Linked DNA regions of Homo sapiens. The protein of the gene in region 1 purifies or fractionates together with the protein of each later gene. This does not show direct contact. Each region holds a gene or a part of one and is shown in the gene's direction. Other genes may lie near its edges.

The links.
Region 2: the proteins of WASHC3 (region 1) and GOLGA4 purify together in Homo sapiens (affinity purification with mass spectrometry; 2 studies listed by BioGRID and IntAct, with this or other methods). This does not show direct contact.
Region 3: the proteins of WASHC3 (region 1) and GCC2 purify together in Homo sapiens (co-immunoprecipitation; 3 studies listed by BioGRID and IntAct, with this or other methods). This does not show direct contact.
Region 4: the proteins of WASHC3 (region 1) and RNF20 purify together in Homo sapiens (co-immunoprecipitation; 3 studies listed by BioGRID and IntAct, with this or other methods). This does not show direct contact.
Region 5: the proteins of WASHC3 (region 1) and MGAT4A purify together in Homo sapiens (affinity purification with mass spectrometry; 2 studies listed by BioGRID and IntAct, with this or other methods). This does not show direct contact.
Region 6: the proteins of WASHC3 (region 1) and RABGAP1 purify together in Homo sapiens (co-immunoprecipitation; 3 studies listed by BioGRID and IntAct, with this or other methods). This does not show direct contact.
Region 7: the proteins of WASHC3 (region 1) and POC1B purify together in Homo sapiens (co-immunoprecipitation; 3 studies listed by BioGRID and IntAct, with this or other methods). This does not show direct contact.

Annotation. Positions count from the first base shown.
Region 1 is NC_000012.12:102,041,222-102,045,606, reverse strand, and holds part of WASHC3 (WASH complex subunit 3), read left to right. Parts: intron 1-1,394; coding exon 1,395-1,502; intron 1,503-4,385. UniProt on the Homo sapiens protein: Acts as a component of the WASH core complex that functions as a nucleation-promoting factor (NPF) at the surface of endosomes, where it recruits and activates the Arp2/3 complex to induce actin polymerization, playing a key role in the fission of tubules that serve as transport intermediates during endosome sorting.
Region 2 is NC_000003.12:37,249,511-37,253,895, forward strand, and holds part of GOLGA4 (golgin subfamily A member 4), read left to right. Parts: intron 1-187; exon of another isoform or gene 188-232; intron 233-1,884; coding exon 1,885-1,974; intron 1,975-4,385. UniProt on the Homo sapiens protein: Involved in vesicular trafficking at the Golgi apparatus level. May play a role in delivery of transport vesicles containing GPI-linked proteins from the trans-Golgi network through its interaction with MACF1. Involved in endosome-to-Golgi trafficking.
Region 3 is NC_000002.12:108,455,267-108,459,651, forward strand, and holds part of GCC2 (GRIP and coiled-coil domain-containing protein 2), read left to right. Parts: intron 1-4,385. UniProt on the Homo sapiens protein: Golgin which probably tethers transport vesicles to the trans-Golgi network (TGN) and regulates vesicular transport between the endosomes and the Golgi.
Region 4 is NC_000009.12:101,543,496-101,547,880, forward strand, and holds part of RNF20 (E3 ubiquitin-protein ligase BRE1A), read left to right. Parts: intron 1-1,271; coding exon 1,272-1,390; intron 1,391-3,324; coding exon 3,325-3,471; intron 3,472-3,641; coding exon 3,642-3,719; intron 3,720-3,903; coding exon 3,904-4,023; intron 4,024-4,385. UniProt on the Homo sapiens protein: Component of the RNF20/40 E3 ubiquitin-protein ligase complex that mediates monoubiquitination of 'Lys-120' of histone H2B (H2BK120ub1).
Region 5 is NC_000002.12:98,727,735-98,732,698, reverse strand, and holds the start of MGAT4A (alpha-1,3-mannosyl-glycoprotein 4-beta-N-acetylglucosaminyltransferase A), read left to right. Parts: upstream 1-1,566; 5' UTR 1,567-1,651; intron 1,652-4,964.
Region 6 is NC_000009.12:122,989,268-122,993,652, forward strand, and holds part of RABGAP1 (rab GTPase-activating protein 1), read left to right. Parts: intron 1-29; coding exon 30-204; intron 205-788; coding exon 789-946; intron 947-4,385. UniProt on the Homo sapiens protein: May act as a GTPase-activating protein of RAB6A. May play a role in microtubule nucleation by centrosome. May participate in a RAB6A-mediated pathway involved in the metaphase-anaphase transition.
Region 7 is NC_000012.12:89,427,942-89,432,326, reverse strand, and holds part of POC1B (POC1 centriolar protein homolog B), read left to right. Parts: intron 1-4,295; exon of another isoform or gene 4,296-4,385.

The DNA of each region.
Region 1 (4,385 bases):
AATTGCAAATAATAACTAAGAAAAATAGAAGACTGTTTTAGATTGCAAGCTTAAAGATTTTGATAACAGTGATGTCTTTGGTTTCATTTTTAATATTTTTTTACATGTGTTTTTTCTGTTTATAAAGTTATGGAGACACTAGTGTATTTTCATGACTAACTTTCCTGAAGTTAATATTTTCTTTGTCCATTTACCAAAATAAAACTAAGAAATATTCTGTAAATATTTATGAGGAAGAAAAAAATGATATCCCTTTTTAATATGACCAGAATGTCTAGTTTGTACTTTCTACGTCTCTTTATGGACTTCAGCAACTGTGTTTCTCTTAGAACATTTCTCTAGTTTGGAAACCCGGTCTTGAACATGTTCAAGATAGTCCTCTAGCAGCCATACCCACTTGAAACTATTTGGGCCATAGCCACTGTGCTAACTATGGTTATCAGTCAACAGTTCTCAATGAGTATTGCTGCTTGAGATCTTATTACCATTGGTTTTTTTTTTAATTATTATTCTTTATAATGAATATGTGTCTTATTTTAATGTGAATATGTGTCTTATTTTAATGTTTAAGGAATTCCTGGGAGTTAGAGTCCAAGGTCGCACATTAAATGACCATATGGACAAGTTAACCTTAGTTATTTCCATGGCCATAGAGTCATCCCCAAAGTTAGCCAAACATCGACAAATGCGTGTCATTGATATCAGGATGAACTCAGAAAAGAAGGTTTGTATGGGTCTCGCAGATCTAACCTGAAATGCTTAACTATTTCATAGTGAAAGCTAAACCATTTCAGGTTGAAATACCAACAATATGCCCATTTTTTTGCATAGAAGAAACATATTTTAATAACATTCAGTGGTGAATGTTCAAAGAAAGAAAAAAGAATGAGCTGTGTCACACATTAAAGTGTAAAGACAAGAGTTTTGTCATATCCTAGATAATTGAAACTCAAAATTTGCACAAAGCCCTTTTTTTTCGAAGTATTATCAATAGAAATATTTTTACAACAACTTTTCTAGGTACATGTTCTTATCTCCACTTTACAGGTGAGATAATTGAGACACAGGGAGTTTTACACAAGATCACACAGCTTGTGAGTGGTAGAGCTAAAAGTTAAACCTGACAGTCTGACTTCAAAGACCAGGCTCTCAGTCCTTACACTAGGATTGTCTATATTTTGAAAATGATGGTTATGTAAACTAAATTAGATTTTTGAGAAGTTCTTCAAAAGAATTTGTGACCGTCTTTCACTTTTAGTTTATGACATGGAAAATTAAAGACAAGATATTGTGAACCTATTTGTATAGCCTTAAAACTTAAGACAGCTATTAAAAATAGTGTTTATTTATGCAAGTACTATCTTCATATTCCAATACTAATTTTCTTTTCTCAGTTGTCATCTATCCCAGGCCTAGATGATGTCACAGTTGAAGTATCTCCTTTAAATGTCACCAGTGTCACAAATGGAGCACATCCTGAAGCCACTTCAGAGCAACCACAGGTAAGTGAGTTCTAAGAAACGAGCAGATGTTCTTGGTTGAAACTGATAGTGTTAAGCAGCAGGTTGGAAGGAAGAAAAATAAACATGTAAAACTTCTAATAGTAAAATTTTAAAACCTTAACATAGAAAATGAAGTTTGGGAAAAACAAATTAGCTGTGTTATTTTGAAGGGCTTCCTGAAGTTAATACTTTCTTTGCCTGTAAAAAAGAAAATCAGTCTATATAGGACTAGGAAAAAGCTTCAAATAATTATTTTCTTCAAAATAATTAGAAATTTTTCTAGGTTCTTAGAAGAAATGTACTTTTAAAATATTTTATTGTAAAATTTTTAAACATACACAAAAATAGACCTGGATTCACCAGTTTTCACAATTGCTTCATCTATTTTTTTGGTCACTTGCTGAAATTAATTCCAGACATCTTGTCATCTCACCCTGCATAAATTTTTGAGCATCTCTGAAAAGTTTTGACATTTTCTTTTGTAACATTTGCTTATATAAATGCCTTTATCATATACAGTGTAATTAACAATAATTGGCCAGGTGCAGTCACTCAGGCCTGTAATCCCAACACTTTGGGAGGCTGAGGCAGGTGGATTGCTTGAGCTCAGGAGTTCGAGATCAGCCTGGGCAACATGGTAAAACCCTATCTCCACTAAAAATACAAAAATTAGCCAGGTGTGGTGGCACGCACCTGTGGTCTCACTACTCGGGAGGCTGAGGTGGGAGGATCACTTGAGCCCACGAGGCAGAGGTTGCAGTGAACCGAGATTACACTACTGCACTCCAGCCTAGGTGACAGCGCAAGTCCCTGCCTCAAAAATAAAAAATAAATAAATAAATAAAACATTCTCTGGTATTGTCTAACCCCTTGTTACTCAAGTACACGCCATGGACCAACCACATGGGCATCACCTGGCAGCTTGTTAGAATGAAGCATCTCAGGCTCCACCCCAAAACTGCTGATGAGAATCTACATTTTAACAAGACCCCTAGGTGATCTGTAGGCTCTTAAAATTTGAGAGCTACTGATCTTAGAAATACCAGTGTGTTTTTGAAGATGATTCGTTTGAATCAGCATCCCAGTAAAAGCTATACTTTACATTTGGCTCTTAGATCTTAACATTTACTTATGCTTCTGTATGAATTTAAATTTTCTATTACTTTTTATTTCAAAAAATAAAAATTCTTTGTTGTTTGAGAACAATCTCTAGTGTATCTCAGCGAGGTATTAAAATCTAAAACAAAGTAATCATCAAAATGGTGGCCTACCAAAGTAATAATAATAAACAAATAAAACAAACAGATTTATAAATGGAATTCTGCCTTTGTACCTGGAGGCACTTTTCACAGGATATTTTTTAGATCACGATGATGTTGACAGTGATGATAACAGCTAACACTTCAAGAGTGCTTTCTGTGTACCAAGGCATGCACGTTTCTAAGTGCCTTTCATAAACTAATTTAATCTTTACAACAGCCCTATAATGTAAGCACCATATTATCAATCTTAGTTTATAGATGGGTCAAATGAGGTATATAGAGGTTAAGTAACTTGCTGAAGGTCGAAAAGTAACGTAAGAGCTAGAATTTTAACCCAGACAGTCTGGTGCCAAGAGCCCTAGCACTTACCTGCTTCACTACACTATACTACACTACACTACACTGTTTTCAGTACCTGTATTCAATTTATTTAAACATATTGAGGATGCGTGGTATGAGGCCCTGTAGAAAGAGCCATATATTTAGAATATAGTATATATTTGGGTAATAAATTAGATGATCATTTACTTAATTAGATATTATAAAATTTAACATCCATTTATTTAATATAGCAAATTTCATTATGGCCACTCAAATATATAAAATGTGCAAGAGGATATCCAGATGTTGTAGAGGAGTTTAACTTTACATTCTCTCAATTAAATATGACTATCCTCTTTCTAAAATAAAGCGTCTATAAAGAATATTAAGAAAATATTTCCACACTACCTAGTAGTTATTATGTGGTAGATAGAGCTGTCATATATTTCTGTAAGATTTTTAAGTATACCTGTCTAACTTTGATTATTAATTTTTCCAGGTGCTATTATGAATGCCATCTATAATATGCCCTTTAAAATTCTTATGCAGTTGTGTTTGTCCTCACATATTTAATGTCCCAAAAATTGATTACCAGTAATCACAGCTGAATTTCTTAATTTGCTTTGCAAATTCAGAATAACCTGGTATATCTCTGGCAATTTTATTTAAAAATTGTATATGTATTTATTTAGAGGGTTTATGAAGTTCTGTTGGCTTCCAAAGTTTGAAATACTGTGATAAAATTGTGTGTTGATTAGCTTAATAAAATAACTGCTCAGCATGTTCTTAATATTCACATCAACTTCTCATTTATTCATTGTTATTAATTGGTATATTTTATACAAAATATTTTGAAGTGGGCTTAAGTATTGCTTAATCCAGAGTTTTCATTGACATTATAGTCAACTCACTTATCAGACAAAGGAGAATAATGCACTTTTTAAAAAAATCATCTGTTTATCACTCTCTCTAATCTATACATGAGTCAAAGACCCAAGGTTTGTGTACTGATTTTTCTGCAACTTTAATTTCATGGTTCAGATTTCATCATTATTCACAATAGAATATCCAATTGTGCAGAGTGAGATTGATTTGAGAATAAATGAAGGACAGTTGAGAGATATGATAGAGGATTTAATGGGTCATTCAAATAGCAAAGGTGTAATACATTTCATAATTAAACCTTGTTGAGGTCTTGGTTATTAGGCAAAAGTTAACGACTGAGAATTGATATCTGGCCAGGATGTAGTTCATTTGCACCATTTTGCTATTATATGAGTTTAATTTCCATAAATTGTTA
Region 2 (4,385 bases), on another chromosome or scaffold:
CAATTCTCCTGCCTCAGCCTCCTGAGTACCTGGGATTACAGGCGCACAACACTACTCTTGTTCATGTTTTTAAGTCCTTATTCTTCCTGTTTTGTCTTTGGTGGGAGAGGATATGTCATCCCTTAAGGTGACTTCTGCACATAGCTAATTTCATCTGTTGTATTGATTTTTCTGGTTCATCTTTTAGAAGGTGTTGGAGTTCTTGGTTGTAAGCAACAAAAAGTCAATCTAGGTAAGCAGAAAAATAATTTATTGAAGACTCTTTACCCTACAGAATTTCCCTGAGGTCCCAAAAGTCTGAGCTGATTGCTACGTCCAGTTATACTGGGGAGACTACTCTGTGTTGCAGCTGCTTCAGCTTGGCACCAGCATTGCATCTGTCACTTCACAGCTTATATTTGTGTGGATGCATGAAGTTCTGTCTCCATTGTCATCAGATGATGAACTTTATTTGTATGTCTGTTTTTTCACATCACTCACTTATGACTCGAAGTCTCATGTGTTTCATTGATGGAGCTCAGGTTACCCTGTCTCAGATAAAAAGAAGATTGGGTTAGTAAGTTTTCTGAGTTCTAACTTACGGACTTATAAGAGCTGTTTATAGAAAAAAGGTTATTAAACTTTTGTCATATTTGTAGATGCTTTTCCTCACCTCCCAATTAAACTGCTGCTTTGATTTGTTTTTCACATAAAAATCTCTTTCCCATTCAGAGATTGTAGAAATAGACTCTTGAATTTTTTGTATTTCAATAAAAAAAATTAAATCTTTAATATAGCTTAAGTATGAAGGATCTGATTTGTGTGTCTTGCCCCATATGGATGGCCAGTTGTCCCAACATTTATTGAATGTCTATCCTGATGCAAAATGTTACTTTTATCATAAGCTAAATATGTATATGTCTGTCTGGATGTATATATGTGTATATAGAGTATGTGTATATTTGTATACTATTCCTCACGACCTCTCAGTTCCACCCTAACCACAGCAGTTTGTGCACGGATACCACAGACCAGAGTTCCATTTGTTTATTCATTCATTCATTTATTTGACAAATATTTATTAACTGCCTTTTGTAAAGTGCAGACTACAAAAAGAGGTAAGATATCATGACTCATTCATTTCTCAAAATAGATCTGAGTTCAGATCTATTTTGCTGTGGGTGTAGGGGGATTTCAAAATTTTGGTTTTATACTTTTAGGGTTGTTTTTAGCTCACCTTAGAGTAGACCCCAGACCTCTAGTTTAAATTTTGAGCCCTTTCTCCTGAGTTTTTTTGCGCTGAGGGTTATAGGAGTCAGGCTGTCAATTACAGAGCTAAATGGAATAGCATCTCAGTATTTAGCAGTGGTATTCAAGGTAGGCTCAAAGCAAGGCCATTAATTAGGTGGGCAAGTGCTGTTTATCTGTGCATTTCATACTATTGAATGTTAGAGCTAGAAGGTAGAAGGGATCTTAAAGATTGAATTGCCAGCCTTTTTTTTTTAAATGAACTTCTAATTTTGGAATAATTTTGGTTTATAGAAAAGTTCTAAAGATAGTGCAGAGAGTTTTTATATACCCCTCACCTGGCTTCAGTTTTCTCTAATATTATCATCTTACACTAGTATCGCAACTTTATTTTATATATGGAGACACATAGTCCTCAAAAAGTTCATGTAGCTAAGATCATAGTTCTAGTTGGTGGCAGAGTTAGGCCAGGGACCTAGTAGGTAGCCTGGGTTTTCTAGTTGATTATATTTGTTATCCTTTTCTGCTTTTCGTGTTTTTGCTCTTTTCCTTTCTTTCACTGAATTCTTTGGGCATGGACTGAGAGAAGGACTACCTAGTTCATAGTTCACTAGTCAATATAGTCTTGCTAATTTGTGCAATAATTTTTAAATCTAGGCGTCCTCCAATTCTTCAACACCAACAAGAATGAGGAGCAGGACATCTTCATTTACAGAGCAACTTGATGAAGGTACACCCAATAGAGAGGTAAGTTTGGAATTCCTTTTCTAGTATACCTCTCAAAAGAAACTAATCTAAAATGTATGCTGTTGATAACAAAATGGGAAACTTTTGACAGGTCAGCTATTTAATTCCTAGGTAGAGTTTTTATTAGTAACACAATTGGTCTTTTTTTTTTTTTTTTCACAAATAGCAGTTATGATTTATGTCTGTCTGTCTGTCTGTATGTATGTATGTATGTTTTTGAGACAGGGTCTGGTTCTGTCACCCAGGCTAGAGTGTGGTGGCACGATCACTGCACATTGCAGCCTTGACCTTCTGGATTCAAGTGATCCTCTAACTTCAGCCTCCTGAGTAGCTGGGACTATAGGCGCACGCCACCTGCCTGGCTAACGTTTAAATTTTTCGTAGACGGGGTCCCACTATGTTGCTCAGGCTGGTCTTGAACTCCTGGGCTCAAGTGATTCTCCCAATTATGCTTTATAAAGTATGGTTGTTGAGAACCTTAATTTGAGAGGATAATATGTTCTGGATTTAATAGTTGAAGTTTTCAGAATAATTTGATAAATTTGTTCAACATAGCATCATTTTTTCAAGCTGGTGAGTGGAAACTGAGAAGTAACTTATTTAACTTATTCCATGTAACCAGCAGCTGGCATTAAAACTCATTATTTCCCACTTTTTTTCTGTGAAGTGTAACACACATACAAAAAGAAGGTAAAACATAAATGCACGGGTCAGCAAATTATCATGAAGTGAATCCTCCCAGGTCAAGCAAAGGAACACTGTTAGCACTGTCGTGCTCCCTTTCCCCCTGAAGGATTACCACCATCCTGAATTTTTGGTATTTGCTTGCTTCCTTTTTTTTTTTTTTTTTAATAGTTTTACCTCTTAAATATGCTTTCTAAATGTAAACATTGTAGTTAAACATTTGGGTTGTCTACAGGTTTTGGCTACTATGAATTATGTTGCCATCAACATTATTGTACTTTTTTTTGGTGTACATGTACCTGCATTTCTGTTGGTATGTACTTTGGAGTAGAATCACTGCTCCATTTTAACACATAAGAAGATAATGCTGATGGTTTTCCAGAGTGGTTGTAGAAATTTAAATTCTCACCAGGAGCTTATGAAAGTTGCTTTTGCCCTATATTTTTGAGAGTCTTTATTTTTCTACTCTGTGTAAATATGCTGGAAAACAGTCTTTTTCATTTCAGCTGTTCTGGTGGTGGTCTTTCATTTTGGTTTTAATTTACATTCTCTGATAACTAACGAGATTGAGCATTTACATCTGTTTATTGCCCATTTGATGTCTTTTGTGAGTGCTTAAGTCCCTTGCCCATTTTCTATTGGATTATCTTTTTTTAAAACTGATTTGTAGGAGTTTTTTAAAAAATATAGAATACTAAGGAGTTTTTTGTTGAATATATATCTTGCAGCTATCTTCCACTCAGTGGCTTGCCATTCATTTTAATGATGTCCTTTGATGAACAGAAGTTCTTAGTTTTAGGCCAAGTATGGTGGCTCATGCCTGTAATCCCAGCGCTTTGGAAGGCCAAGGCAGGAGGATTGCTTGAGTCCAGGAGTTTGAGACCAGCCTGGGCAACAGAGTGAGACCCTGTTTCTGCAAAAATAAAATAAAATAAAATTAGCTAGGTATGGTGGCATGCACCTGTGTGGTCCCAGCTACTCAGGAGGCTAAGGCAGGGGCATTACTTGAGCCTCGGAGGTCGAAGCTGCAGTGAACCATGATTGCACCAGCCTAGGTGACACAGTAAGACCCTGTCTTTCAAAAAAAAAAAAAAGCCTGGTTCCCATCCATTTCCCATCCCTGACAGTACCTTCTATCTTAGAAGTTTAACAAAATGAGAAACCGCATAGGGTACAGGGAAATGATGAAAAAATTAATTTAATGTCCTTTTAACCAAAAACTTAATTATATAATTGAAAAATCCTTTATTTATTATAAAATAAGTTGAAGTAAGGTTTAGATTGCACTCTGTGGTCAAAGTACCTGTTAAAGTTGTCAAAAAAGCTTAAAAAGCAAGGAGATGAAGTGATGACAATGCTTTGTCATTCTATCCGAAACCATCTCTTAGCTAGGATTGTTAATATTAAAATTTAGAAAGAAATAAATAAACTTTAGCTGACTTGGTCGATTGTAAAAGAGTGCTAAAACCAAATCTTTCAGAAATAATTATTTTGTAAAGGTATATTCAATTAAATTATTTTAAAGCATCCTAGATTTTTAAAAAGTATTTTAAAAAAGCAATGGTAGCAGTCAGCCGGGCATGGTGGCTCACGCCTGTAATCCCAGCACTTTGGGAGGCCGAGGTGGGCAGATCACTTGAGGCCAGGAGTTCGAGACCAGCCTGATCAATATGGTGAAACCCTAAAAAAATACAAAAATTAGCCAGACGTGGTGACACGTCCCTGTA
Region 3 (4,385 bases), on another chromosome or scaffold:
CCATCTCTACTCAAAATACAAAAATTAACCAGGCATGGTGGCACGCGCCTATAGCCCAAGCTACTTGGTAGCTGAGGCAGAAGAATCGCTTGAACCGAGGAGGCAGAGGTTGCAGTGAGCTGAGATAGTGCCACTGCACTACAGCCTGAGCAACAGAGTGAGACTCCGTCTCAAGAAAAAAAAAAAATTCTCCAAGTTAGCCAACTTTACCTTTAAGGTTTTTTTTCTTTTCCTTCTTTTTTTTTCCTGATCCATTATATTTATACGTATTCATGGGGTACATGTGAAATTTTGTTAAATGCACAGAATATATAATCATTAAATCAGAGTATTTACTATCCACAGCCAGGTATTTATCATATATATGTGTTGTGTACATTTCAAGTCTTCTGGCTATTTTGAAAAATATTTATCTTTCCCTGTCTTAGATTTTACTTAACATAATGACCTCCAGCTCCATCCATATTCCTGGAAATGGCGTGATCTTATTCTTTTTTATGGGCATATAGTATTCCATTGTGTATATATACCACATTTATCCATTCATCCTTTGATGGGCACTTAAGTTGATTTCATGTATTTGCTATTGTGAGTAGTGCTGCAATAAACACAGGAGTGTATATATCCCTTTGTTATATTGATTTGTTTTCAATGACTACCAATATTGGGGTTTTTGGATTGTATGGTAGCTCTATTTTTAGTTTTTTGAGAAATCCCCAACTGTTTTCTTTTTTTTGAGACGGAGTCTTGCTCTGTCGCCCAGGCTGTAGTGCAGTGGCATGATCTTGGCTCACTGCAAGCTCTGCCTTCCAGGTTCACACCATTCTTCTGCCTCAGCGTCCTGAGTAGCTGGGACTACAGGCGCCGGCCACCAAGCCTGGCTAATTTTTTGTATTTTTTAGTAGAGATGGGGTTTCACCATATTAGCCAGGATGGTCTCGATCCCCTGACCACTTTGGGAGCCAGCCTCGGCCTCCCAAAGTGTTGGGATTACAGGCGTGAGCCACCGCTCCTGGCCTGAGAAATCCCCAACTGTTTTGTATAGTGACTATGCTTACCTACACTTCCACCAACAGTGTAGAAGAGTTCTTTCTCCACATTGTCATCAATATCTGTTACTTTTTTTCTTCTTAATAGCCATTCCTTATTGTGGTTTTGATTTGCATATCCCTGATGATTAGTGATATTGAGTATTTTATCATATACTTCTTGGCCATTTCTTTGTCTTTTAAGAAATGTCTATTCATGTCCCTTGCCTATTTTTTAATGGGGTTATTTTTTAATGTTGTGTTGTTTGAGTTCCTTGTATACTCTGGGTATTAGTCCCATATTGGATGAGTAGATTGCAAATATTTTGTCCCATTTAAGAGGTTGTCTTCTTCATGCTGTTGATTGTTTCTTTTGCTATGCAGAAGCTTTTTAGCCTATAATCTCAGCATTAAGGGAAGCCATGGCAGGAGGATCACTTGAGCCGAGCAGTTTGAGACCAGCCTGAGAAACATAGCAAGATCCGTTTCTACAAAAAAATATAAATTAGCCAGACATGGTGGAACATGCCTGTAGTCCCATCTTCTTGGGATGCTGAGATAGGAAGATCACTTGATCCCAGGAGGTTGAGGCTGCTGTGAGCCATAATCACACTTACTGCACTCCAGCCTGGGTGACAGAGGGAGCCCTTACATAAAAAAAAAAAAAAAAAAATTTAAGATGCCTTTCAGTTTAATGTAGTCCTATTTGTCTGTTTTTGTTGCCTGGGCTTTTGAGATCTTAGCCATAAAATCTTTGCCTAGACCAATGTCTTGATGCATTTGCCCTGTGTTTTCTTCTTTTAGTTTTACACTTTTGGGTCTTATATAATATAAGTCTTTAATCTATTTTTGTTGATATTTGTATCAACTAAATGGTGAGAGATAGGGACTCACTTTCATTCTTCTGCATATAGTTACCTGGATTTCCTGGCACCGTTTGTTAAGAGGGTGTCGTTTGCCCAGTGTGTGTTCTTAATGGCATTGTCGAAGATCGGTTGTGTATAAATATGAGGATTTATTTTTGGGTTCTCTATTTTGTTCCATTGGTCTGTATGCTTGTTTATATACCAATACTTTGTTGCTTTGGTTTCTATAGCCTCGTAATATGTTTTGAAGTCAAGTAGAATGATGCCGCCGCTTTATTTTTTAACTCAGAATTTCTTTAGCTTTTCTGGCTTTTTTTTTGGTTTCATGAAAACATTAGGATTCTTTTTTCTGTTTCTTTGAAAAATGGTGTTGGTATTTTAATAGGGATTTCATTGAACTGTACATTAGTTTGGATAGTATGATCATTTCAACAATATTTTGTGAGCATGAAATGTCTTCCTGCTTATTTGTGTTCTCTTCAGTTTCTTTCATCTGTGTTTTTGTAGTTTTCATTATAGAGATCTTACACTTCTTTGGCTTTTGTTTGAGCTACTGTAAAAGGTGTTGCCTTCTTGATTTCCTTTTTTAGCTATTTTATTGTTGGTATATAGAAATGCTACTGGTTTTTGTATGTTGAATTTGTATCCAGCAACCTTACTGAATTTATCAGCTCTAAGAATTTTTTGATAGTCTTTTGTCATCTGTAGAGAGGGACAGTTTAACTTCCATGTTTCCAGTTTGGATGTCGTTTATTTCTTTCTCTTGCCTAATTGTTCTGGCTAGGACTGTCAGTCCCATGTTGAATAGTAGTGGTGAAAGTGGGCATCTTTGTCTTCAGTTCTTAGAGGAAAGATTTTCAGCTTTTCCCCATTTTTGTGTGATGTTAATGTGAGTTTGTCATATGTGGCCTTTATTATTTTGAGGTATAATCCTTCTGTGCCTAGTTTGCTAAGAGTTTTTATCCTGAAGGGATGTTGAATTTTATGAATTCCTTTTTCTGCGTCTAGTGAGATGACATACGACTTTTGCCCTTTATTCTGTTGATGTGATATGTCACATTGATTTGCATATATTGAACCATCCTTGCATCCCTCGAATAAATTCATTTGATCATGGTGTATTATCTTTTCAATGTGCTGTTAGATTTGGTTTGCCAGTATTTTGCTGAGGATTTTTGCATTGGTGTTCATCAGGGATATTGGTTGTTGCTTTCTTTTTTTTTTTTTTTTTTTTGCTGTGTCCTTGTCTGGTTTTGGTATCAGGGTAGCACCAGCTTTCTAGAATGAGTTAGGGAAAATTGCCACCTCTTCAGTATTTTGGAGTAGTTTCAGGAGGATTGGTATTAGGTCTTTATACATTTGGTAGAATTCAGTGTGCATCCATCTGGTTCTGGGCTTTTCTTTGTGGGGAGACTTTTTATTACTGATTCGTTCTTGCTACTCATTATTAATTTGTTCAGGTTTTCTATTTTTTCCTGGATTTTTCTTTGATAGGTTGTATGTTTCCAGAAATTTATCCATTTCCTCTAGGTTTTCCAGTTTGTGGGTGCATAGCTGTTCATAATATTCTCTGATGGTCTATTTATTTCTATGAGAATGGTTGTAATGTCTCCTTTTTCATTTCTGATTTTATTTAGGTCTTCTTTTTTGTTGTTGTTAGCCTAACTAGTAGTTTATCAATTTTGTTTATCTTTTTGAAGAACAAGCTTTTCATTTTGTTGATCCTCTGCCTTTTTTAAAAGTCTCTATTTCATTTAGTTCTGCTTTGATCTTTATTAGTCGTTTCCTTCTGCTAATTTTGGGTTTGGCTTTGGCTTGTTCTTTCTGGTTCATTGAGGTAAATCATTAGATTGTTTGAAATCTTTTTACTTTTTGGATGTAGGCGTTTATTGCCATAAACTTAGTATTCATGTCCTGCTTTTGTTGTATCACACAGGTTTTGTGATACAAAAAATCACATAGGTTTTGTGATACAAAAGCACTGCTTTTGTTGTATCACATAGGTTTTGGTATGTTGTAGTTTCCATTTTCATTTGTTCCAAGAAATTTTTTGATTTTCATTTTAATTTCCTTATTGACCCATGGTCATTTGAGACCATGTTATTTAATTTTCATGTATTTCTGTCACTTCCAAAGTTCCCCTTGATACTGATTTCTAATATTCCATTGTAGTTCGAGAACATACTTGATATGATTTTGATTTTTAAAAATTTGTTGAAAATGATTTTGTGGCCTAACATATGGTCTTTTCTGAAGAATGAATGTTTCATGTGCTGTTGAGAAAAATATGTATTCTGCAGCTGTTGGATAAAATGTTCTACAAACATCTGTTAGGTCCATTTGGTCTAAAGTCTGGTTTAAATGCAATGTTTCTTTGTTAATTTTCTGTCTAGATGATCTGTCTAATGCTGAGAGTGGGGTGAGTTTGCCCAGTACGATTGCACTGGAGTCTCTCTCTCTCTAGATCTAGTAATAACTTGCTTTAGGAATC
Region 4 (4,385 bases), on another chromosome or scaffold:
CTGTCTAACCCTGCCACTGCAGTACTGTCCAACCCTGCCAGAGCGGAACTGTCTAACCTGCCAGGGCGGCACTGTCTAACCTGCCAGAGCGGCACTGTCTAACCCTGCCAGGGCGGCACTGTCTAACCTGCCAGGGCAGTACTGTCTGTTTGTTTGGTCTTTGATTCAAAAGAATTGCATTTATGGGCTTGTTTATAAATTCACTAAACATTTATTGAATTTTATTGTATTCTAGCCCTGTCCTCAGTGCTTAGGATATTGAGAGGACTAAAATTCAGTCTCTACTTCTTAACTCAGGTTATGAATCAGAATAACCTTGGGAGTTTTCTGAGCATATTCTTATTTTTGGCTTTGCCCATGGAGGTTCTTATTAAGTAGGTATGAGATAGGTCCTAGGGAAATGTCTATTTTAAAAGTTCCACAAGTGATTCTGATGGGCAAGCCTAGCTTGAAAACCATGAAAACCACCATATGACCAACCTGTTCTGTATTGATACTAAGAGTAATGCCAAGAGGTGATATGAGAAAGCATATTTTTCTTCCTGATAACTCTCTTTGATGGGTGGTATATATCCTGAGAGTATCTGGTTTCATTTAATTACATTTGGATTTCAGCTATAGTATTTGCAACTCTAATTTTAAACATACGAACTTGGTGTAATAAGTTCTATGGATTTACCTACCTGCTTTGTAAATAGTAGTGTACATTTTGGTTTTTAAGCTTCAGAAGTGCCCCTAACATAGTATTTCAGAATATATGATATGAGAATATGTGATAAGAGCATATGATTCTTGCTTTGTTATTCAGGCTGGTCTTGAACTCCTGGCCTCAAGTGATCGGCCTGCCTTGGCTTCCCAAGGTGCTAGGATTACAGCGTGAGCTGCTATACCTGGCCAAGGATACACAGTTTTAAAATTTGACACTATAGGCCAGGCACGGTGGCTCACACCTGTAATCCCAGCACTTTGGGAGGCTGAGGTGGGTGGATCACCTGAGGTCAGGAGTTTGAGACCAGCCTGTCCGACATGGTGAAACCCCATCTCTACTAAAAATACAAAAATCATCCGGGTGTGGTGGCATGTGCCTGTAATCCCAGCTACTCTGGAGGCTGAGGCAGGAGAATCGGCTCGAACCCTGGAGGCAGAGGTTGCAGTGAGCCGAGATCGCGCCACTGTACTCCAGCCTGGGCGATAGAGCAAGACTCCGTCTTAAAAAAAAAAAAAAAATGACACTCTAGATGCTAAATTAAAGTATAGTTCTTCTTCCCCAGATAATCTGATAGTGGAGGAAGCAGTGCAGGAGCTGAACTCTTTCCTCGCACAGGAGAATATGAGGCTACAGGAATTGACAGATCTTCTTCAGGAAAAGCATCGCACCATGTCTCAGGAGGTACTTAACCAAAAAGGAGAGATGGCTGTGTCTAGTGGGCTGTGGCAGATGTTGACTTACAATTCTGAGCACCTCAAAGATTACCTTACTCTAGAAGGCCTATCATATCATAGGGGATTTTGTAAAACACAACACAACTCCAAACCTCCAAATAATGAATTACCCTAAATATAAAAGACTGTATAGTGTTATTGAGGAATGGCGTGGTAGAAATTCCACAGGGAATGGGGAAGTAGAAACTACTGTATTGATGATGTCCTAGGAATTTGAGGAATGTCAATTTTCAGTCTAAACTTGGGTGCAAATAATGCCATGATTAAACCATGCCAAGATTTGGACATTTATTTATTTACACAAAATGATCAAGATAAAGTGATGATAGGCCTTAAATGACTTTTCTGATACTTCTGATGATCATTTTGATTTAGTTCAAAATATATTCTACTGGAATTTGCCCCACCTTAGTTTGGCCACTGAATTCTTATGCTAATTAGTAATTTAGTAGTTGCCATTTACTTAGTGCCTAGAATTTAAGCACTTTATGAATGTTATCTCTAATGGCAAAACAACTCCCATTTTATTGCCAAAGAAACAAATTCAAAGAGGTTAGTGATTATTCTGAGGGCACATAGCTAGAAAGTGATTGAGCTGTGTTGTGACTGTAGGTCTGTTTGACTTCAAAGCTCTTGTTCTTCATATGCCTTTGTTTACTAAACCCCAGTGTTAAGGTCCATGCTGGCCTGGTTGCATGAATATCATCTGGGGAATTTATTAATTCATATGGATTATCCTGGACCTTCAAAGGGGTTAGAATGTAGTAGCCCTTATAAATAAACTGGAGTCTAGTAAGAAAATAGAATATTTTTATCATGTTTTAAGACATTGACTAGGTGCTACCAAGATGGAGAGGTCTTCCTTTTCTAGCCCTTTGACAAATCTCAGATAGTATTACTAACCTGGAGGGCAGTTGTTTGCTAAACTGTGATGTCCTTGTTGGCTCTCATGGCTGGCTGTTGATGCTGCCTGTCAGCTGGGTTAATTGTCTACTGGGATACCTGCAGTTTGCCTCTCCATCATGGTAGTCTCAGGATGGTTGGAATTTTTACATGTTGGCTGACTTCTTCCAGTGAGCATCCCAAGATCACCAGGTAGAACCTTCATGGCCTTTCTGATATAGCCTCAAAATTGTGTAGTGACATTTCCATTGGGTCTCTAAAGTTGACCCAGATTCAAGAGGAGGGAACAAAGATCCCACCTCTTGTTCAGAGGACTTTCAAAGGATTTTTGTGTCATGTTTTAAAACCTAGCACAAAGGGTATATATAGATTAATGTGAACTTGTAATAGTTTAGTAGTTAAAATACTAAATAGTGTTAGCTGGTGTATAGCTCCTAAATAGAGTATCTGACTTTAGATTATAGTATAATCTATACTGTATTGTATCTGACTCTAGATTGCTCTGGGGTGAGCTTAAAAAAGAGTATGGAAGTTTTCTTTTGTTGTGAATGAATGGATTACCTTTTGTGGGACTGTGGAGAGAAATTTGGGGGTAAAAATGGTTTTTTTGAAAAAATATTTATCTTACAAAACAAAAGATACTATTTATTATCTCTTAAAAAATTACAAAATTTTTATGAGTTTGTGGTCTGTCCAGAGAAATGGTGCTTTTCAGAGGTAGAAAAATTGTTGAATCTTAGGTGGTCTTTTCTTTGTGTGAGAGTTCTTATAGACTTTAGACTTAAAGTTTGCATGATTATAACTGACACAGAATTGTTGGAGGAATCCGTGATTTCATTTTTGTAATCATGCATTGGGAAGAGGGTGAAGCATCTTCTATTTGCCTCTTTTCTATAATTACTCATAAGCAAGGGTTAATATTATGGAATTTGGTCTTTTTTTGCTATATGTTTCTGAATGTTTGTCTTTGGGATGTAGTTCTCCAAGTTGCAGAGTAAAGTGGAGACAGCCGAATCACGAGTGTCTGTCCTGGAGTCCATGATTGATGACCTGCAGTGGGATATTGACAAAATTCGAAAGAGGGAACAGCGACTCAACCGACACTTAGCAGAAGTCCTAGAACGGGTCAGTGCTGTTTTATGGCTTGGAGACTAGAATCATTTTAAGGAGTGTTCTCAGGAAGACTCACCTTGGGGCATGGTATTTGAGGAAAAAATCTCATCCTTTGAAGGTACATTGGTTATAGACTGAAATCTTAAGAGTCTCTCACTAAAGAATCTTTGTGTTCTCTGTAGGTGAATTCCAAAGGTTATAAGGTGTATGGAGCGGGGAGCAGTCTGTATGGCGGCACAATCACTATCAATGCTCGGAAGGTAAAATCAGTGACTCAGGACATGTTTTGGACTGTATGTCAGCTTTCATGCTTAGGTACTTAGGACTGTGTTCACAAGTGACATCATGGGGTTTTGCTGGAATAGCGAATCAGTGAAGAAAGGAAGCTTAGAAATGATTTAAGAAGAATACTTATTTATTCTCTATTTTTCTGCTTCTCTGCAGTTTGAGGAAATGAATGCAGAGCTTGAGGAGAACAAAGAGTTGGCTCAGAACCGTCTCTGTGAGCTGGAGAAACTTCGGCAAGACTTTGAGGAGGTCACTACACAAAATGAAAAGCTGAAGGTAGGAACGCATCCCTGAAGGGCAGTAAAATCAGACGTTCTGCTGATCAACTCACGTATATACATAGTTGTGAATCTGCGTATTCATGAGGGATAAGAAAAATGTAGACAAAATCCAACATCCTTTTATGATAAAACTCTTAACAAATTAGGTGTAAAGAAGTGTACCTCAACATAATAAAGGCCATATAAAACAAGCCCACAGCCAACATTATACCCAATGGCGAAAAGTTGAAAGCTTTTCCTTTAAGATCAGGAACAGGATAAAGATGCTCGCTGTCATTACTTTTGTCCTAGCCAGAGTAATTAGGCAAGGATAAGAAATAAAGGCCTCTTAATCAGAAAGGAAGAGGTAAAGTTGTT
Region 5 (4,964 bases), on another chromosome or scaffold:
AATTGTGGGATTTACAATTCAAGATGATATTTGGGTGGGGACACAGCCAAACCGGAAGTAGAGAGAAAACACACTCAAAGTAGAGGGAAGAGCTGTCATTGGATATCATGGCTGTGATCCCCCAAGTTGTGTCCACAGTGCTGGGCAGTGGACAGATCTTTTGGTATGGTTCCCCTAAACTAGTAAGAGACTATGGGAGCAGGGATGTTACGTGTCTCTTCCTGAAGTTTTAAATTAGCCGTCATGGAGAAACCTCAACATGGGAAGGCTGATAACTCCATGCATGTTCTAGCTGATTATTAATTATTCTTATCTTGAGATAAAAATAATGGAATTTATCGGAGGTGGGGAGGGGACCCTGTTCTGATTGATGCCTCTTAAGAGTTTTCGATTATTGAAATTACTGTTTTCTGAAAAGAATCTACTTATTACTTTGGGAGTTTGGCAGGAACAAGGCTGCCTCCTTGATCTTTGGCCCCTCAATTCCCTTACAGGTTACTCGGTAGGATTGCTGTAAGGATTATTGCGGCAATAAAGTTAACACATCCCTTGTTTTTGAACCATTACCAGCTGTGTGACCTTGGGCAAGCCCTTTCACCTCTCAGCTAGTTTCCTCTTATGAAAAATGGGGAATAAATTTAAAACATGAGATATGCAATAAACGATCTAACACCCATGCCTGCTATACGGTTGCCTGCTATACAGTTAAGTATTCAAAAGAGGACGTACCCAGGGGTAGTTACTGTTAGCACAAGTCCTATGGATACTATGAAAAACAGGGACAGACCACCCAGGCTTTCTACAAACGAGTCAGTTTTTTGCCTTTGAAGTTAACCTCTAACCTTGTGAAACGGCGACAGATAAGGACATGGGGTTCAAGAAAACGGGGCATAGTGGAAAATCAGGGGCATTAGCACCCAACGATGTGCGTTGAAACCCTAGTTGTTTTTCTCCTTCCCAGTTGCTGAAATCAGCCCTTCTGGCCGATTCGCGGGGTTCTCACCGGGAAGTTGGGGCTGTCGCGACCGTCCGCGGGGCCTCGGGAGCTCCTGTGGGGCTGGGCCCGGGACCTGTCCCCGGGGAGGCCGCCCAGTTTGGGCGGCCCGGAGCGGGGCGCGCCGCTGGGAAGGGGCCGGGTCGAGGCAGGCAGGCGCCTGGGAGCTGGGGCAGCCCCGGGTGGTCGGGTCGCGCGCCGAGGCGCAGGCCGAGGGCTCGCCCGGGCCTTTGTTGGCCGCCGGAGCGGTCCCTGCACGCGCCGGGAGGATCTCAGCCAGATGTGGCAGCGGGGCGGCGGGGAGCAGGCCGGCGCCCAGAGCTGGGACCCGAGACCGCGGCTCCGCTCCGGACCTCGCCGTGACACCGATGAGCCGGGCCAGCCTCCCGAACGCTCCGCAGGCTGCGTGGCGGCGCCCCTAAGTGACAGTCGCGCGGGCCACTGGTGGGGCGCGGGGCGCGGGGCGCGGGGCCCGCGGGGCCGGCCAATGGCTGGCGGGGTCGGGGCGGCCCGGCGGGGCGGGGCGGGGCGGGCGCTCCAGCGGCGGGGGCGGAGCCGGCGGGGCGGGCGGGGCGGCCCGCAGCGGCGGCGGCAGCGGCGGCGGCGGCTACAGCAGCTCCGCCGGCAGCCGCGGGAGCACGGCGACGCCAGCGGCGGGTGAGGGGCTCGCGGCGGCAGCGGCGGCGCGCGGGGGCGGGAGGGGGCGCGGGGCGGCTGCGCGGAGGGCGCGGGAGTTGGGGGCGGCGCCGGCGGCCGGGCTGGCGGCCCCGGGCTGCGGGAGATCCACCTGCTGGTAAAGGAGCCTACTGCGCCGCGGCCCGGCCGGAGCTCTGTGCGGGGGAGCTGTTGGCGCCTCTGGGCGCGGGGCCGGCTCCGGGAGCGGCTGGGCCTCGGGGGCGGGCGGCGGGGCGCGGGCCGGGCCGTCCTCCCAGCGTCCCTGCCCCGCACCGCGCACCCCTCGGGGTCGCGCGCCCTCTCTGCGGCCGGCTCGGCGCCTGGTGCGTTCCTGGCGCTCCCCGGCGTGGCGGGGCTCGGCGACTTTGGGGGAAAGTGGAGCAAAGTGCTGATCCGGGGGGTGCGGAGGGGGAGGGACAGCTGCCTGTGGGACCCGGGGGCTGCGCGGGAGTCGGCGCTTTCGCGGGGGCCGCGGGGCAGGTGGGCGGGGCCGGACGGTCCGAGGCGCAGGGGCAGGGGCTGCTCCCGAGGGGACCGGCCGTGCAGCCTTCGCAGGGAATTTTCACACAAAGTGAAGGGCTGCGGGGCCCGCGTGAAAGAGCAGCCCCCGTTTCCCCAGGCCTCAGCTCTCTCCGTAATGAGGAAGCTGCAGTAGGACCCTGAGGCTGGGTCTCGGTGACTCCACCAAGTGTGCCAGGTGACATCTCGGAGGCGAGCTTTTCTGAGCTGGCAGTCGAGCCACTTGCACACCCGCCTTTATTCCTCGCAACAGTGTGTTTCTCTGGAGCGGTTTCATTGCCTACATTCCGCATTGGAAAATAGAAGCAGGCACAATGTATGCTTTGAATGCTTTCCACGTATTTTGCTGTTGTGCTTTTGCTGTTGGACAGATTATTTGATAAAAGATAATGACAGTCGTTCGTTGGAACGTAGACTGTAAATTTAGAATAAAAATATGCGTTTTGTGGTTTATGTTTCTTTTTCTGAATGTTTAAAAAACAGTTTGATGAACAGGTTATCTTGACATAGATTTCTTTAACCCACACGTGTAAACCCGAAAACGCACTGGGCGATGACATTACGTAAGCTGTATTAAAGAAAACTACTGACCCGTTTATAAATGGCAAATAAATGAATTTTGCCACAATTGTGGTGTGTAAAGTTATATAGGCTTACGTCATGGATTTTATTGATTCCAGATATCAGGGATTATTGTGCCTTTCATTCTTAAGTCACCTCTACCCTGTCTGTGGGATGCTGATTAAGGAAGATGCCAAACGTTCGGCAAAGTGTTCTCAGCCGTGGACTATATTGAGTATTTCAGAGAACACTTTAAAATAAGTAAAGGTTTTGTATCCAATAATAAAATGAAGACTGAAGCCCTTAAAGGATTGCTAACAAAACAGTCTGATGTCTAGAGTTGAAAGTTCCATTCACCTTTGGGAGGGTGGAGAAATGACTAGCAATTTTAGCCACTACCTTTTTTTGTTGTTGTTAAAGATTCAAACGTGTTAGATTATAGTCTCCGAGAATATTAAGGGGCTAGATTAAAATTTTTGCAAATGTGGACACTAATAAAAATGTGGGTCACCTGTGTCTTACAAGCCAGCCTGTGAATTATGTCTCATAATTGAAGAGTGAGTAGATCCTTGGTTTTACTCTTGTCCGAAGAGTTTCTTCACTTGTGCCGTGCAGTTAAACTTATTAGCTGGGAAACCCTAATTAAAAATGTATGACTACATTCTTACTGAGTAAAACACGCATATTTTTCTTGCAAAATTTCAGGGCTTATTTGCTAGTAGAATTTATTGTAAGTATCTTCAGAGTTTCATAACTTACTGGATCCAGTATTTTTTTTTTTTCATATATTAGGGGTAGTATATCAATAGTTTACTTTGGTTTTAGAGTTCATTTACTTGTCTCTATGCATTTCTACGGAATGTTTTTACAAGCTTTATTTGTATTTAGTAAAACTTTTAAAATATCCTTAACTATATGATGTGCGCTCTACCTCCCCGTTATTATGAATTGAGTGCTTACTCTAATAACCTGTATGCTTTTTAGATCTTTTACTAGAACAAAATTCTTTCTCAAGTAAAATAGGGCTAAGTAGATAGCAGCTGAAAGTTATAAGTATTTTAATATAATGCCACACCGGGATTAATGTTCCAAGTTATATAATTCATAGAATTATCACCCGTGTTTTTATAATCAGAATTCATTATTGGGTGCTTATTGATTTAAGACAATTAGAGCAGTCTTGCTATGAAGTTTTTTTTTTTTTTCAAACTGAGTCTCTGTCACCCAGGCTGGAGTGCAGTGGTGTGATCTCGGCTCACTGCAACCTCTGCCTCCCAGGTTCAAGTAATTCTCCTGCCTCAGCCTCCCGAGTAAGCTGGGATTACAGGCACCTGCCACCACTCCTGGCTAATTTTTGTATTTTTAATAGAGACAGGGTTTCGTCATGTTGGCCAGGCTGGCCTTGAACTCCTGACCTCGGGTAATCTGCCTGCCTCAGCCTCCCAAAGTGCTAGGATTACAGGCATGAGCCACCACACCTGGCCACTGTGAAGATTTTAATTCTAAACTGTAGACGTGGGCATGTTTGATGTTAACTTGTCTTAACTGTAGAAGGTGAATAAGTTCAATCTTAGAGAACAATGATAACTTCTGCATGAGAATATTTTTAGATCTCTTTGTGTTCAGGTAGTAAAAGAGGTTAGGTGCTTCTAGAATATTATGTGGAAGGTAGAGCTGCTGTCTGAGGGTTAACAGGCATAGTTTGGTGGAGGGTTGTGGTGAGGTATTAGCCAAAAGCTACAGGAAGTGGAGATTTGTTTAAAGTTGTATAAACATACACTTTGAAAATTTCCATGAATTTTGCAACTTACTCCTTAGTAGATCAGTGTGTGTTATATAATTTATTTTTTTAATTTACACTTACAGTTGGGTATAATTCTGCAGTTTTACCTGATACTTGGAGTATCCCTGGAACTTCTCTTCATATTGCCAGGTGCAGGAGGCCTCATTTGAGAGGGAAAGTGTAGCAGCTAAGAGCTTGGACTTTGGAGACAAACAAATTCGAGTTCTTTCTCTGGATTCATTTCCTTGTGTGTAGAACAGGGTTAATAATGCCTGCCTCATAGGAACGATTTTGTGAAGATTTAAACCATGTGGTGGATCAGGCACATAGGAAACATTTCATAAGTTGTAGTGGCTGTCATTATTAGTACTATGCCCCTGTGATCTTTCTTTACTAGGGGGAATTTCTAGTAGTGTTCAGTGTTAAGAAGCA
Region 6 (4,385 bases), on another chromosome or scaffold:
AATCTCTCTGTATCTTTTTCTCTGAACAGACTCTTAGATCCTCAGACAAACACTGAAATAGCAAACTACCCTATCTACAAAATCCTCTTCTGTGTCAGAGGGCATGATGGAACTCCTGAGAGTGACTGTTTTGCTTTCACTGAAAGTCATTACAATGCAGAGCTCTTCAGAATACACGTCTTCCGGTGTGAAATACAAGAAGCTGTAAGTCCTCAAGAGAAAACTCTCTGCAAATGAAACTTCACCAGTGCCCTCACTAGGTTGAAATGATTATGGTATTTATTATGATCACTCATAAGCCAGATGAAATTCTCTGCTATTGTTTTAGTGATTCTAGCCTCATGGGCCAAAATATAAATTAACTAAAAATTTGATTAACTAGAACTTTGTTACTACTACTAAGAATGTCAGAGGAGATCTGTTGGCTACTTTTGATTGGGTTAAGTAGGCATTCTGGTTCTAACATTGACAGATTTGCAAACCATTCTTTTAAATCAAAACTTGTTAGGACTGTTTTCATTGTAATATCTTCAGATAGTTTCTAACAATTTAGGAAGTGATTTTTAAATTGGATTTATAGTGCTTACAACCATTTCTTTTTTAAAACCCCTTGTCTGGACATTTTTAGTGTTGCTTGCTTTATAGGCCTAACAAATTAGGTAATTTACCAAAAGAAATAAGTGGGATAAAGATAATTATTGCCCTCCAAAGTAGGTAATCTTCCAGCCTTAATAAAGGTATTTTATATCTTTTGATAACAGCCCATTTCCTAACATGTCTGGTTGTAGGTAAGCCGGATACTTTACAGTTTTGCCACTGCCTTCCGCCGTTCTGCCAAGCAGACCCCACTTTCAGCCACTGCTGCACCCCAGACTCCTGACAGTGACATCTTTACCTTCTCTGTGTCTTTAGAAATAAAAGAAGATGATGGTAAAGGTTATTTTAGGTAGGGAATCTTATTTTATTCATGTATTAACATGCTGTGGTTCAGGGGAAATTCTAGGTCAGATTATAACTTTCATACCATAAAATGATGGCTTTTAAAGGGAGGGCTTTTAAAAAAAATCTGGATGATAAAGGCATATAAATACATAAATTTAACAGAGGCAAAGTTTGAAGAATTTTAAAGCAATTAAAAAAATTGTCATATTGGGAACATGTTGCTACCTTCTTTTAGTCAGATACCAAGTGGCTAACTGCTCACAAAAATATGGCCAAACCGCCAGGCGCTGTGGCTCACACCTGTAATCCCAGCTCTTTGGGTGGCTGAGGCGGACGGATCACCTGAGGTCGGGAGTTCGAGATGAGCCTGACCAACATGGAGAAACCTTGTCTCTACTAAAAATACAAAATTAGCCGGGCGTGGTGGTGGGTGCCTGTAATCCCAGCTACTTGGGAGGCTGAGGCAGGAGAATCGCTTGAACCCGGCAGGCAGAGGTTGCAGTGAGCCGAGATCCTGCCACTGCACTCCAGCCTGGGCAACGAGAACGAAACTCCGTCTCAAAAAAAAAAAAAAAAAAAAAAAAAAAATATATATATATATATATATATATATATATATATATATATGGCCAAAGCTTAGTCAGCTGGATTTGTAGCTATATTTGTTTTGCTGATTGTATTTGCTTGTTTTAGTTGGTTGATTTACTTATATTAATAATCTAAAAATCTTAAGCCTTTTCAAGTCAAGTTTTCCCAGTAAAGTTATCTGCATACATTGGAAGGGGAGAAATAAGGTCTGTGTCTGAAGTCTAATCTTTTGTAGGGTTAGAAGTGACTGATTTTAATTTTTAAATATAATGATAATCCTTTGAGTGGTGGAAAGAACCATGGAATAGAAGTCAAAACTTAGCTTTAGTTTAATTATTGTTACTATTAACAGTGTCCCCATTTCCAAGTTTCTTTACATCTGTCAGTAGTTTCCTCATTTATTAAATGAGGTGGCTAGACTCTAAAACCCTTTCTCACTTTAAAATTTTATGGTTGCAAGATGACTTGATGTTTTTAAAATTACAGCCCATGTCCCAAAATGATTGTATTATAATCAGTAATTGCATGTAGAAGTCTGTTTCCTCCATGACTACCTCATTAAATTGGTAAAATGAAGTTATATAAAAATATGAATATTTCTAATATTTTGCTTTTAAATTAAGCACAGTGATTGGTTTATTAGATTATTAGAAAAACTGATAATTTTTAGTCTTTCTTCAGACTTTGGAATTGTCATGCCATCTGGTGGCCAATTTAGTGTACAGTGCAGCTTAAACTTTGAGGAGTAAAGTATGACTCATTGTGCTCTATGCTTTCTAATTAGATAGATTTCTATTCTCTCTCTCTCTTTTTTTTTTTTTTTTGAGATACGCCTCACGCTGTTGCTCAGGCTTGAATGCAATGGTACAAACATGACTCACTGCAGCCTCAGCCTTCTGGTCTCAAGCAGTCCTCCCACCTCGCCCTCCTGAGTAGCTGGGACCACGGATGCATGCCACTATGTCTGGCTAATTTTTTTTTAAGTTTTTCTAGAGATGGGGTCTTGCCACATTGCCCAGGTTGGTCTTGAACTCGTGGTCTCAAGTGATAGTCTCAGCTTGTCAAAGTGTTGGGATTACAGGCATGAGCCAACCATTCCTGACTATTTCTATTCTCAAAGCAATGCTGTGAGGTAGTCCTTCCTGCAATGTACCTTCCTGCCCTGCAAAGTGAAAATTATAATCTGTATAATTTTAAGTAGTTTTTTACCTTGTTAAGCAACCTTTAAACTAAATATATTTTCTTTCTTTTTTTTTTGAGACAGAGCCTTGCTCTGTCACCAAGGCTGGAATGTAGTGGCACGATCACGGTTCACCGCAACCTCTGTCTCCCAGGTTCAAGCAATTCTCATGCCTCAGCCTCCTGAGTAGCTGGGATTACAAGCATCTGCCACCATACCGGGCTAATTTTTTCTATTTTTCAGTAGAGACAGGGTTTCGCCGTGTTGGCCAGGCTGGTCTCAAACTCCCGGCCTCAAGTGATCCATTTACCTGGGCCTCCCAGAGTGCTGGGATTATAGGCATGATTCACCATGCCTGGCCTTTTTTTCTTTATTGAAAATATTTATGTAGTTTTGGTCTGTAAATTCTAATTATTAAATAGGAAAGATTAAGATCCCTCAGAAGTATCAGTATAACTTCCCTTCCTTCTGAAATCAGGCATATTCAAGGTAGAATGATCATAAACATCTCTGTTCTATTTGTTAATACTGACAAAGTGCTATTACAGAAAATCCCTGGATGGTCAGATTTGCTTTTCACATTTGTTAGGACTTTGTTCTCCTTTTGCTACATGGCTTTGCTGAATTTCTGGTTTATAATAAATACTGTTATGTTAACTTAAATATATTATTTAAGTATAATGATCAATATACCTAAATATATTAGGTTAATATATATTATTTAGGTATAATAATAATTATATATTATACATATAAATTATGTAATAGTTATATACCTATTATTATATAAAACCTATTATATACTTACTATTATACCTAAATATTTATTTTATCTAAATATTATACCTAAATAATTATTATACCAAAATAATTATTATACCTAAATATATTAGGTTAACACAACAGTACTTTAGATGTATGAAATCCTAGCAAAATATACCTTGGTTTGTCAGATTTAAACTTGTCAAAGGTAGTTCCTCTTATCCAGTAATTCTGTAATATGTATGGAAATTTATCTGCAGAAATAATCATTGAGGTTTTCAAAGAATTATTATTATGAATGTTCTCCAACATACTGTGTATAATATTAATAGCAAATTTTAAAAGTAGAAATTAAGTGTTGAATAGAGTACTAAAACATGTTGGTTTATGGATATTACTTATCCCCTGTCCAACTCATATTTGTGTATAACACAAGATTTACTGTGGTTTTACTTTAACATAAATATAGACAAAGTATGATGAGAATAATTAATGCTCTTCTCATTTCTGAAAAAGTATAATTTTTAAATTATTATTATTATTATTTTGAGACGGAGTTTTTCCTCTTGTCACTCAGGCTGGAGTGCAATGGCGTGATCTTGGCTCATTGCAACCTCCTTCTCCCGGGTTCAAGTGATTCTACTGCTTCAACCTCCCGAGTAGCTGGAATTATAGGTGCCCACCGCCACGCCTGGCTACTTTTTGTACTTTTAGTAGAGACGGGGTTTCACCATGTTGGCCAGGCTGGTCTCGAACTCCTGACCTCAGGTGATCCACCTGCCTCAGCCTCCCAAATTGCTGGGATTACAGGCGTGAGCCACCATGCCTGGCCAATTTTTAAATTATTATGATTAGAAACCTGCTTCTCCATTTTGCCCATGGGAAAACTGAGCATTTGTTTGTTTGTTGTTGA
Region 7 (4,385 bases), about 13 Mb from region 1:
GCAACCTCCACCTCCCAGGTTCAAGTGATTGTCCTGCCTCAGCCTCCTGAGTAGCTGGGACTACGGGTGCATGCCGCAACACCTGGCTAATTTCTTTTGTATTTTAGTAGAGACAGGGTTTCACCGTGTTGCCCAGGCTGGTCTCAAACTCTTGAGCTCAGGCAATCCGCCCACCTCGACCTCCCAAAGTGCTAGGATTACAGGCATGAGCCACCATGCCCGGCCAAGTTAAGGCTCTTGAGATGGGGAGGTTATCCTGGATTATCTGACCGGGCCCCATATAATCACAAGGGTCCTTATACGGAAAGAGGGATTCATGAGAATTAGAGAAGATATAACAATTAAAGCAGTTATTGGAGTGATGCAGCCATGGGCTAAGGAATGTGGACAGCCTCTAGAAGCTGGAAAGGCAAGGAATGGATTCTCTCCTAGAGCCTTCAGAAGGAATGCAGCTTACTGACACCTTGTTTTTAGCCCCGTTAATCCTGTTTTGGACTTGCAATCTCCAAAACTATAAGATAATAAATCTATGTTGTTTTAAACCACTAAGTTTGTGGTAATTTGTTACAGCAGCAGTAGGAAATGAACACAGTCCTGTATCTCTGGCACCTGGAATTTTGCCTGGCACATAGGTGCTAAATAAAATAATTTTGCTTGAACAATTGGCATATATTCATTATCTTAGATCTTATGTAGAGATTATTGAAGTTTCCAATCCCTACTCTAAATTTTATCATTGAAAATAAATGATATAGTCTTTCTTTGAAAAATATTTGCTTTTATTTTTGTCCAAGGCAAAAGGCTTTTTTTGTTGTTATTCTAGTCTATTTCAGGCAGACGTTTTATACATACGTGTGTGTGTGCATGTGCGTGTGTGTGTGTGTGTGTGTGTAGTGATTTAAAAATCTCAGAACATCAGGAATAAAAAGGGCTTTAAAAGGCATTCAATTGAATTTCCTGATTTGATGTTTGTATATCTTTCACAATATCTCTGACAAATGACCTTCCCAAGTCTATTTTAGAACCTTCAATAATGGGAAACACTTTGGCTTAGATATTTTCTGCCTTTTATCTGTTTTCTTCTCTACTTACAGAATTAAACCAAGAGTAGAAATGTTAGTTGTAAACCAAAACTAACTTATTTTAACCAACTGATTGAATGTATATCTAAAGTTCAAGTCACTGATTATCTTTACATGTGAAATGCCTACTTTTGCACTCACATTTGTTAGAAAAATCCATCTGTTATTCAGCCAGAAGCTATCAAGTATGCCTTTAGGGGATAAAAATCTACCAGTGATTTGAAGTTAGATAATATATGCTTACATTGCTTCCTCACTGTACCTCTGAGAAGGCATTTAAGATTGTAATTTTTAATAGAAAATGGCATTAGTTTAACTTTGGGGGGTAATATTTCTCTTCAAATACTATCAAATTGCTAATATTTAATTTTTTGTGATTGGCTCAGCTGATGCAGGACAGTCCATTAAATTCAGTTCAACCAATGTGGAGCTTTGTCTGTGTCTCATGTGCTATGCCAAGCACCTGAGATGATAAAGTTACTGACCCCACATGAGGGGTTCATAATCTAATGGGGAATACGGATATGTAAACACAAATATAATAAGGAGTGAGAAATCCTCTACTGATGGCACGAAGTCTTGTGGGAGTGAAATGGCACTAGTGATTAATTCTGACTCGCCAGCCCAGAGGGTGGGTGGTGGAAAGGGTGGTGGTAGAAGGAGAGAAGAGGAAAGGAGGAAGGGGAGTAGATATAATGTATGAACTTTCGCACGTAGTTGAGCACCACAGTATCTTGAATATTCCTTTGTTAATTATGTAAATAATAATAGTTTAGATGTGTGGACCATGGTTATGTTGTTGAATGGTTAATTTTCTAATAAAAATGTGTTTGGCAATGCGAAAATTTTCAGTTTTCATTGATGCATTAAAATAATTCATCCTCAAAAATAAGTGACAAATGAAGATGTATGCATTAGAATTAACCATGGTATTTAAAGAACCTTTTAAGAGTCATTTGTCCCCAGGATGTGATATGTTTTGTATTCAGTTCTCAGGACTTTCGTAGTTCTTTGCATCAGTCAGATCTGTATCTTTTACTCCATTTCATTTGTTCAGGTGAAAAGTGAGTCCTTTTGACCTATATAGATAAGGATTTCTCAGCCCTTAGATTCATTCTTTGCCCTTGGTGAGGCTGCATTTCCCATCTTCAAGATGGCAACCATGGGGTTATCCAAAGAAGAACTTAAGAATAGTGATTGCCCTGCCATCCTTTTTGATAAAGTACTTCCCCAGAGTATTGTAAGCTCCATGAAGGAAGATACCATGTCTGACTTGTTCTTTGCTATAGCTCTAATGCCTACCATAGGAGGTCCTTATTTGTAGGATCAATCAATGATTGTATTACTATTGCTTCACTGTATCACACAATGTTAGCAATAGAAGTAAGAGGTGGGAAATGAGAACATGATATAATTTCTTCTTTTTATGAACTACCAAAGCATTTGTTTTTTCTGCAGTCTTGCAATCATGTGTTTGCTTATGTTCTGTCTGCTTGTTTATTTCCTGCTCATTCAGCAGTGCCAGAGATGAGCCAGGCATTGTGGGGGATTTGGGCCCTGCCTGGTCTGAATTCTCTCATCGCAACAGGGAATCCTTGAGAGCGGGCATCATACCATACGTACATTTATCATTGTATGATAGTATGTATAGATAGATGCTCAGTAAGTATTTACTCAGAACTGAATATTAGCACCTTTGAAATAGGAGAGTATCTCAATGTGCTGAGAGAAGCAGGTACTACAGACTCACTTGCTGGACTTCTATCAGCCAGGAATCTTAAACACCATGTTTTTCCCTTTGTACCTTTTTAAAAAATACTTATGAATGGAATGTATTGAACCTCCCCCATGCTGTGCATCTCACTTTTCTCCTGTACAAACAGGATGTAAAGACAGGGTTAGTTGGTAGAAAGCTATCTGCTAATACCTAGGTTTCAATACCTTTGAGAGACAAAGAGAGATGTCAGTTGGCTAATGTTGTAGGATGGAGAGCTGGCACCCTTTTTTCTCTCTGCACATATGCTTTTCCCTTTTTTCTTTCATTTCCATATGTCATATGATAATAATATATTTTTTGCTTGTGCCAAACAAGAAAACCTATTGGAGCTCTTTTATTGCTTAGATTGTCTATGGTCTTAAATCATCTTTGCCAATTTTCCTATTGTCCTTTCTATACTAACGACCTTGACTGCAAACCTCCAGAGTTCAATGAATGATTGGGGCCTTTTTCCAAGAAGGTCTGAAGCTGTTATTACAATATGATTAATAATATTTGTGGCCATGTATGTACATACTTAGATATGTTGTGATCCATATTTTTTCAAAAAAACTGTCTTGGTTATAGATAATTTGGTTTCCACCTGTGAGAGCAATAATAAAATCTGCATACAGCCGGGCTCAGTGGCTCACTCCTGTAATCCCAGCACTTTGGGAGGCCGAGGCGGGCAGATCACGAGGTCAGGAGATCGAGACCATCCTGGCTAACATGGTGAAACCCCGTCTCTACTGAAAATACAAAAAAGTAGCTGGAGGTGGTGGTGGGCACCTGTAGTCCCAGCTACTCGGGAGGCTGAGGCAGGAGAATGGTGTGAACCCAGGAAGCAGAGCTTGCAGTGAGCTGAGATTGCGCCACTGCACTCCAGCCTGGGCAACAGAATGAGACTCCATCTCAAAAAAAAAAATCTGTATACAAGTGGTTAACATTTTCTAAAATATTCAAGCTTCTGCTAAGTACTAGAAATGATCCAAGGGATACAGTGATGAGAAGAGTAAACATAGTAGTCTAGTGAGGGAGACAGACAATAGACAAGCAGCAAATACATAAATACAAATTCTGGTCAGTTACAGAGGAAAGCATCAGGATGCCATGCTGGAGAATGAAAGGTCCAGCTTCAGTAGGGTAGTCAGGGCAGGGACTGCATTTCTGAAGATGGGACAGTTAAGCTGAAATTTGGAGGTCAAGAAGGATGCAGTCATGCTAGGATGGCAGAGAAAGCCATTGCAGGCAGAGCAGAAGCAATGTTTTTTGTTTGTTTGTTGGTTTGTTTTTTAAAGCCTGTTCTTTGAGCAGGAACTATTTGTTTGGGGGTGAGGATGGTTGTGGAGCATGGACATCCATATTTTGTTCCCAGTGAATGAGGTCTAGGATCAGGAATGTAGACTATGATCATGAGTCAAGATTTCTTAGAGAATCCTTTGTATTTCCATACTCACCTCTACAGTGCTCCCATTTTAGTCCTTGCTGTCAGCTCAGTAGCTGCAGACCCATGTAGATAAGTGCTGTATGTTGTCTTCCTAGTTCCT